Regions from separate parts of the Homo sapiens genome. Here regions 2 and 3 are each linked to region 1. The links come from fine-mapping of genetic effects on gene expression. A gene starts in region 1. Each other region holds a variant in brackets. All regions are shown on one strand. Distances are between the middles of the regions.

What was found.
Region 2: its variant is fine-mapped to the expression of GSDMD in whole blood (INTERVAL, PIP 0.92).
Region 3: its variant is fine-mapped to the expression of GSDMD in whole blood (TOPMed, PIP above 0.99).

The regions. Positions count from the first base shown.
Region 1 is chr8:143,556,933-143,559,680 of GRCh38, forward strand. GSDMD (gasdermin D) reads left to right here and starts at 1,414. Exons shown (of 11, transcript NM_024736.7): 1 at 1,414-1,519; 2 at 2,400-2,620. The coding sequence starts at 2,404. It overlaps LOC100310756 (a long non-coding RNA gene), which reads right to left and starts at 1,339. Exons shown (of 1, transcript NR_147504.1): 1 at 1-1,339. RefSeq lists an enhancer at 1,229-1,870.
Region 2 is chr8:143,439,070-143,441,817 of GRCh38, forward strand. It overlaps ZC3H3 (zinc finger CCCH-type containing 3), which reads right to left. Exons shown (of 12, transcript NM_015117.3): 10 at 1,867-2,051; 11 at 972-1,294. Among named protein-coding and RNA genes, the nearest start is that of MAFA, 9.7 kb to the left of the region's middle. The variant T/TGAG (reference allele first, on the strand shown) is at 1,147.
Region 3 is chr8:143,395,196-143,397,943 of GRCh38, forward strand. No RefSeq gene overlaps it. Among named protein-coding and RNA genes, the nearest start is that of MAFA-AS1, 12 kb to the right of the region's middle. The variant G/A (reference allele first, on the strand shown) is at 1,428.

The sequences.
Region 1 (2,748 bases):
CATCACCAACGGCCAATATCAAAACACTTCCTCACCCCAGAAAGAAACCCCAAACCAGCAACCGTCGCTCCCAACCCCCGTCCCGGGCACCGGCAGCGCCATCTCCCTTCTTCCCTCTGGACGTGCCCATTCGGGACACATCACGTGAGCAGGATCACGCCGTCCGCTCCGTGTGCCTGGCTTTTCACTTAGCATGATGTCTCCAAGTCTGTGTCGCCCGTCTGTGTCGCCCAGTGCATCAGGGTCTCATTCCTTTTGACCGTGGGCGCCGTTCTACGGCCTGGATTCCAGTGCCTGGACTGGCCATGTTTAGTCTATGCACGCCTCAGTGGATGGACAGGGTTTCCACCTTGCCGCTATGGCGAAGGATGCTGCCGCTATGGCGAAGGATGCTGCCGCTATGGTGAAGGATGCTGCCGCTTTGGCGAAGGATGCTGCCGCTATGGCGAAGGATGATGCCGCTGTGACGACAGCTGCTGCCGCTGTGGCGAAGGATGCTGCCGCTGTGACGACGGATGCTGCCGCTATGATGAAGGATGATGCCGCTGTGACGACGGATGCTGCCACTATGGCGAAGGATGCTGCCGTGAACTTTGGTGCACAGGCATCTGTTTGCGTCTTTGCTTTCAATTCCTGTGGGTGGAGCTAGGAGTGGAATTGCTGGGTCACACGGTAACTCTTGGAGGAGCTGCCAGGCTTATTCCAGAGGGCCGCACGGGTTGACATTCCCACCAGCATTGCACAAATGTTCCAGTGACTCCACGTGCCCCCCGCGCTGGTTATTCACCTTTAGTAATACGACCATCTTTGTCAGTGTGCAGTATCTCTCTGTGGATTCCATTTGCATTTCCTTGATGACTAAGGGTGTTGAGCATCTTTGCATTTGCTTGAGGGCAATTTCTACATTTTGTACATCTTTGGAAGATCTGCCCAGACCCTTCGGCACAGGCCCAAAGTTGTTTGTTTGCTTGTTTGTTTTTGAGACGGAGTCTCACTCTGTCGCCCAGGCTGGAGTACAATGGCATGATCTCGGCTCACTGCAACCTACACCTCCCAGGTTCAAGCGATTCTCTTGCCTCAGCCTCCCAGGTAGCTGGGATCACAGGCATGCGCCACCACGCCGGGCTAATTTTGTATTTTTAGTAGAGACGGGGTTTCACCATGTTGGTCAGTCTGGTCTTGAACTCCCGACCTCAGGTGATCCGCCCGGGCACAGGCTCAGAGTTTTAAGAAAAACCACAAAGTGCTATGAAGTTTGAGGCTACCAGGATGGGGCGCCAAGCCAAGGTTCCTCCGGACGCGCGAGGCTGGTGCTCCAGGCGGGCTGGCGGGAAGAGGGGGCAGGAAGGGGGCCGGGGCGGGCTCTCCGGGACGGTTCCGGGAGGGCGTCCTGGGCGGGCCCTGCGTCAGGTTGCAGTTTCACTTTTAGCTCTGGGCACCTCCAGCTCCTGCTCGCCGGACGGCTCCCAGGGAGAGCAGACGCGCCAGACGCGCCACCCTCGGGGCGCCGACGGTCACGGTGAGCTGCGCCCCGCCCCCTCCCCCGGCCTGGCTGGAGCTCCCGAGTGGGGCCGGCCGCTGGCTCCCGGGTGGGGGATGCTGGCCCTGCTGCCCCAGCGTTCGCCCAGAAGGCCCCGCGCCGCACACGGGGGCGGAAGCTCCAGGCTTCGGGAAAGGCTGCCCCTGGCCAGCCCAGGGGCCCGGCCTTTGGACCTGGGCTTGGGCTTGACTCCCAGGTCCGCCATCCAGGTTCCCGGGCCGGTGCTGTTCCCGCCCCCAGCTGCCTTCTGGGCCCAGCCTCCACTTTCAGCAGACCCAGCACTCAGAGGCTTCCTGGGGCAGCTGCAGCCCCTCCACAGTGGCCCAGGTGCCCCCTATCCCAGCGGAGGCCCGCTATGGCCTCTGACCCCCAAAGCCTCAGCCTTGGACAGGTGGCTCATGGAGCTCCAGGCACAGAGAAGGCCCTGGAGGACGCAGCTGGGGTGGGGCGACACTCTGGCTGGGTTTTGCAGTGGGTCCCTGGTGACACTCTGGCTGGGTTTTGCAGTGGGTCCCTGCACCACGCTCAGGAGGTGACAGCTTGTTTCCTCCCAGCCAGAGGCAGCCATTCTAGTGGACAGAGCCCTCTGTGTTAGAGCAGGTCTGGGCGTCAGGCCTCACTGTCCCTGGCTGGAGGTGCTCATGGTACCGTAGACAACAGGGAGAACACTGTAATTCTGTGTTGGGGAGGGCCGGGGACAGAAGCTTTCTGCTAGTGGGAGCATCCCAGGATGAGCTGGGCAGGGCTGTTCTGGAGGGAAGGAGTCCCCCATCATGGGAGACATCCAAGTACTGACCCTTCTCCCACTCCCTCCCGCCCGCCCCGAGAGCACAATGCCTGACCCATTTCCCCTCCTCAGGAGCATGGGGTCGGCCTTTGAGCGGGTAGTCCGGAGAGTGGTCCAGGAGCTGGACCATGGTGGGGAGTTCATCCCTGTGACCAGCCTGCAGAGCTCCACTGGCTTCCAGCCCTACTGCCTGGTGGTTAGGAAGCCCTCAAGCTCATGGTTCTGGAAACCCCGTTATAAGTGTGTCAACCTGTCTATCAAGGACATCCTGGAGCCGGATGCCGCGGAACCAGGTGCCTGATGTGGTGCTGAGGCAGAGCCCCAGGGAGGCTGGATGGGAGAGGGGAGCGGGCTGGGGCCAACCATCCACTGGGCTCTGCAGCCTCTAGCTCTGGGCCTCTCTTCCAGAGGCCGGGGCCTT
Region 2 (2,748 bases), 120 kb before region 1:
CACTGGCTCTGGAACTGGCTGCTAGGTTCCTGATCTTAAAAAAAAAAAAAAATACAAGTCGCTGCCTCGGGGCCCCATCTGCTCCCCGACCCCAGAGAGGCCCACCCAGATGGAGGGAGCGGGTGCCCAGGTCTCGTGGGGCGGAGGGTCTGGCCACGGCTCCACGCCCCTGACGTGGAGGCTGTGAACAGGAGGCGGCCCCTCCGAGGCAGGCATTTGAGTGTGCTCAGCGGAGCTGTTGCAGAAGGCTGCAGCAAGCATCTTCCATTAACGTTACGACCGTGAAATATGACAATAAAATGATAGCCGTATGGTCGCAAATTTGCAGCCCGCCGAGCTGCGTGGGGTTTATCGTCACTCAAACGCGCGGAGAGCTGTAAAATGTTTACAGAAAGGGTCGTTTGCAGCCATAAAATCCTCTTTTCTCTCCTAAACAAGGCTGAGTGGAGCCATTTACCAAGCCCCAAATGCTCATCGGGGGAGAGGGAACATCTGTTCTCTCCAGGAGTGCGTGGTGATCTTCCAGAACAAATTAACAGAAATGGGTGCTTTCTAATTAAATCAGCCCTCAGCTGGGGCAGACTGCGCAGCGGCCACCGCTACACTCGCACCTTGGCTGGCCCTGCCCCAGGGCTGGCAGGTGCACCCCTGGCGCCCGTGGGACTCACCCAGGCCCCACCTGGAGATTCTGACGTGGTGGTCTGAGGGGGCATTTAAAGCTCCCCTGTGCCCGAGCCCGGCCATGCTGCCTACCTGAGCCCTTGGTGAGGGGGGCCCTGGGGGCCTGAGCCAGGCCATGCTGCCTACCTGAGTCCTTGGTGAGGGAGGCCCTGGGGGCCCGAGCCAGGCCATGCTGCCTACCTGAGTCCTTGCTGAGGGGGGGGCCCTGGGGGCCTGAGCCAGGCCGTGCTGCCTACCTGAATCCTTGGTGAGGGGGGCCCTGGGGGCCCGAGCCAGGCCGTGCTGCCTACCTGAGTCCTTGGTGAGGGGGGCCCTAGGGGCCCGGACCCTGGGCTGGGCTCCTGGGCTCGGCGAGGACTGCAGGGAGATGAAGGAAGGCAGCTTGCAGAGCCTGTTGGAGCACGCTGCTGCTAAGGCAGCCTCCTGGAGAGATGGTGCCTCGTGGTCCAAGGAAGCGGGAGGGGA[T/TGAG]GAGGAGGAGGAGGAGGAGGAGGAAGCCTTCGAGGATGAGGGAGAGGCTGACCCCCCTGGGCAGTGGGGAGGTGCAGCCACGGCAGCCGCAGTGAGGGCAGCCGAGCTGGGCGTCTGCCTGGTGGGGCGCTGGGATGCTGAAGGCTTCCTGCAGGGAAGGAAGGGGCAGACGTGTGAGGTGGGGTGACGGGTGGGGATCCCAGCGACAGACTGCCCATGCTCTTGGCTGCTTCCTGCTCCCGTGGCCCTCCGTGGTCTCAGGGCAGAGCTGGAGGCACAGGTCAGGCCTGGCCCTTGGCCGCAAGGACAGGCTGGGTGCAGGGATGGCCCCAGCTCCACACCGAGCCTGCCCCTCACATCCAGGGCCTTGGCTTCCTGGTCTCCATGGGGCTCCACACCCACATGGCAGGTGGGCTGGATGAGGGGGCCCCCAGACTCCTCCCGGGGCTGGGCCTCCCACCCGGTCCCAGTGAGCAGGTCTCTGTGAGGCCCCACCTTCCTCCATTGGCCAGGGATGCCCTTGGCTCTGTCCAGACTTGGAAGTGGGGTAGGGGCATCTCTGGAGGTCATGTGATCCCCAGCCTTGGATAGGGATTTCTTTCTGGTCTGAGGCCCAAAGAGCTGGAGTTGGCGGGAGCTCAACCAGAGGGCCCCGGGCATCTCCCCAGACAGGGAGGGGGCCACCCAGGCTCACATGCACAGTGCCCACTGCCCCATCACCTGGGCCCGTGGCTGGCCGAGACCCTGCTCCTGGCGGTTGCGTCGCTGGGCCCTGGGGCGGGGGACGTGGCTGCCCGCCGACTGTGGCGTTTCTGGGTACGGTGGAGCAGCTGGCACTGGGCGCCGCGGGGACACGCCCCCCTGCGGGCAAAGTCGGGGCACAGCAGCGTGTGTTTCTTCTTGCACTGCAGAGAGAAGGGGTGCAGGTGGGTGGGCCGGCTGGAGGCTGTGGCGCTGCACGGGGAAGGCAAGGAGAGCCAGGCCAGGCCCCCCGAGTACCCACGGGGCCCCATAGGCTCCGTCCAAGTCTTGGGGCCAAAGGCTTCCTCTTGGAAGGCTGAGGCCACCAGTCCAGAGAGGTTCCACCTGGGCCCTCACCCACCCACAAGAGGCCCTCAGCCAACTGTAGGCCCTGGGCACAGACTGAGAGCAGGGCGGGGCTGGGCCAGCGTGGGGACTCCCAGAGCCTGCAGCCAGGCCATGGCTCAGGGCTCTGCCCACCCGCTGCCTCTGCCAGACCCCAGCCAGCCCATCCTGGCAGCACAGAGGGAGCCCGGGAAGGTGGGTGTGGCTAGAGACCTGGGGGTCTTAGGCTGGGCCGGGAGAGGGTGGGGCAGGTCAGCCAAGGCCAGGCTGCACTGGGTCAGGGCTGGGCTGGGCTGGGCACGCGATCCCTAGCACCTGTCACAGTGCTAATTATACCCACAGGGCAGGGGGTGTGCCAGCCAGCAGGTGCTCTGGGCAGCAACATGGCCCCAGCTCTCCTACCAGGCCCACAGGGAAACACAAAGAGGCTGCCCAAGGCCCCAGCGGCCCAGCCTGGCCTGTGGTGCAGGGCGCCCAGCCTGCCCTTCCTCTGCCCACCCCTCCCGGGCTCTGCTC
Region 3 (2,748 bases), 160 kb before region 1:
TCAAGTGATCCTTCTGCCTCAGACTCCTAAAGTGCTGGGATTACAGGCATGAGCCACTGTGCCTGGCTAATTTTAAAAATTTTTTTTAACTTTTTTTTTTTTGAGACGCAGTTTTGCTCGTCGCCCAGGCTGGAGTGCAAAGGCAGATCTCGGCTCACTGCAACCTCTGCCTCCCAGGTTTAAGTGATTCTTCTGCCTCAGCCTCCCAAGTAGCTGAGATCATGTGCCACCACTCCTGGCTAATTTTGTATTTTTAGTAGAGATGGAGTTTCACCATGTTGGCCGGGCTGGTCTCTAACTCCTGACCTCAAGTGATCCGCCCGCCTCAGCCTCCCAAAATGCTGGGGTTATAGGTGTGAGCCACCGCACCCAGCCTAATTTTTTTACTTTATTTCTATCTTTTGTAGAGACAGGGTCTCGCTCTGTTGTCCAGGCTGCGGTAAATCCTTGAATAAGCTTGTGTGTTTCTGGGTGGTGGGTTTTATAATGCACACACCATGTGAGCTCATCTGAACAGATAAGCACTTAAAGAAAAACACACTTGAGACTGGTTTACTACCCACTCTGGGAACCTGGGTCTTTGCTTTCCCTGTAGGAGCCTGGGCCCCAGCCGTCTATTCTGTAAGCCCTCCGTCCCTATGGGCTGGAGGAGTGAGGGGAGCCGCCCGGGGACAAGTCCTTGGTGCACAGGTACCAGGATGGAGCTACCCAAAGGGGAGAAGTACAGTTCTCCCTGGGAAGGGGCAACTGCAGAGGGTTTTGAAGAATGAATAGGAGTTCTTTAGGCTGACTGAGGAAGCTTGAAACAGCATGGTGTGGGGAGTTAGGGAGGAGGGAGAGGAGGTCAGGCAGGCCAGCTCGTGGGGGCTGCAGAATAAGTTTTGGCAGGGCCAGAACTTGGAGCAGGTCGCCTGGTCACTGTGGGGAGTGGGTTGGAAGAGCAGCTGAAAGGTTTCCTAGGACCCTGATACAGCCCTTAGGTCTGTGGGGCTGGACTTGTGCTCCTATTTTAGCACCAGAGAAGTCCAGAGACCTGTGCAGGGTCACATAGCATATGGGACCTGGCTAGGTGGGACCTAGACACTCACCTACTGGCCTGTTCAGGGCTCTCTGTTGAGGCTTGACTTGAAGCCTCCAAGGGCAGGCCCGGCCCCTGCCCCCAGCATCCATCCCTTCCCCACCCTGGCACAGCGTCTGGGGGTGCACAGTGGGGCTGAGAGGAGGCTGGGTGGGCCCTGCCGTGGGGTGGTTGCATTTGGCTGCTCCCCCTCCCCGTGGCTGACTTGTGAGGAGGCTAGGATTGATCCGTTCTTGGAACTGGCGCTTGTGAATATTCCTAAAGAGGAAAATCAATCAATTATCCCAGAGCAGGGCCATTTTTCTAACCGGGAGAACAAGCAGTTTTATGCACCTCGGAAGAGCCTCCC[G/A]GGGTCGATCGTGGCTGGGCCAAGCCAGACGCCCTCTGAATCTCTCCTGGACTGGCGGTGGCCCCTGTCTCTACAGGCAGCCCTCCCGCGGCCTCACTCTGCCCGCTGCCAGGTCAGCATCCCCAGCCTCTGTGTGACAGGGAAGCCCAAAGCCGCCTGCTGGGGCTCCAGGGAGGGAGTTAAGGCCCCTCAGTGACTGGACTGAGGCAGAATTGCTCCTTCTGTTGAGCCCCAAATCCCACTGCCAAGATAGGGTCCCAGGCCTGAGGACCTCCCGCCAACACCAGAGCCCCACGCATGGGGGTGCTCCCACTCCGGCCTGCCCTGTCCCGGACGCCAACCCAGCGAGGGTGCGGAGTGCAGGGCGGGCGCAGACAGCGAAGGCCTGCAGTGGCTGCCTGCCAGGCTGGGAAGCTCCAGTGGCCTGAGGGTCCCAGATTCCACTGCCATCGAGGGAACTCCCTCCCCGCACCCCCAGCATTGACTCCTCTGTTCCAGGAGCTGGACCCTGACTGTATGTGGCGCCTGCCTCCAGCCCTGCTCTTCCCAGAGCCCTCCTGGGTCTGGCCTGGGCCAGGCCTGCCCTCCAGGGACTCCCACAGGGTGCTGGGCGGCAGGGCCCCGCCCATGCCCTTCTGCTCAAACCTTGGGTGCTCTACCCTCCCACTGTCCCCTCCTGGACTGTCACTGTTCCTCCTAGGGGGCAGTGATGGAAGGGGCCCACCTACCCATATGTCCCCTGGTTCCCTCAGTCACCCCGACCCTGGCAGGAGGGTTAGGCTGGCCTCGTGAGCCCCAGGACAGGCTGTCCTGAAACGGTCACCTCCCAAGCCCAGTGTCCCACTCAGAGCTGGGCCTCCATAGAGGACCCCACAGGACGGCTTGATTACTTAAAATTGTGATTACGGTAAAATGTGTTACGATTTCAGCCATCTCTGAGGGTGCACCTGAGTGGTGTGAAGCGCGCCCACATCCTCGTGCCTCCAGAATCTTCCATCTTCCCAAACTGACTCTGTTCCCGTGAAACACTCGCCTCCCCAGCCCCCGTCCCCACCCTGTGAATCGGAGCCTCAGAGCCTTAGGTCACTGGGGTCACAGCATGTGTCCTGTGCCCACCACCTTCGCTCAGCATGGGGTCTCCCCAAGGGGCTCTGGCGAGGGGCGGGCATCCTTCTGGCTGGGCAGGTGGAGGGGCCCCTCACCCAGGAAGGGTGGCGGAAGCCAGAGAGGCCCTGAGGGTGAGGGTTTGAGGGCGGATGTGTGGGGGTGGGGCCGCAGTAACTACAGGCCAGCAGCAAATGGACAGCTCACAGCGGCCGGC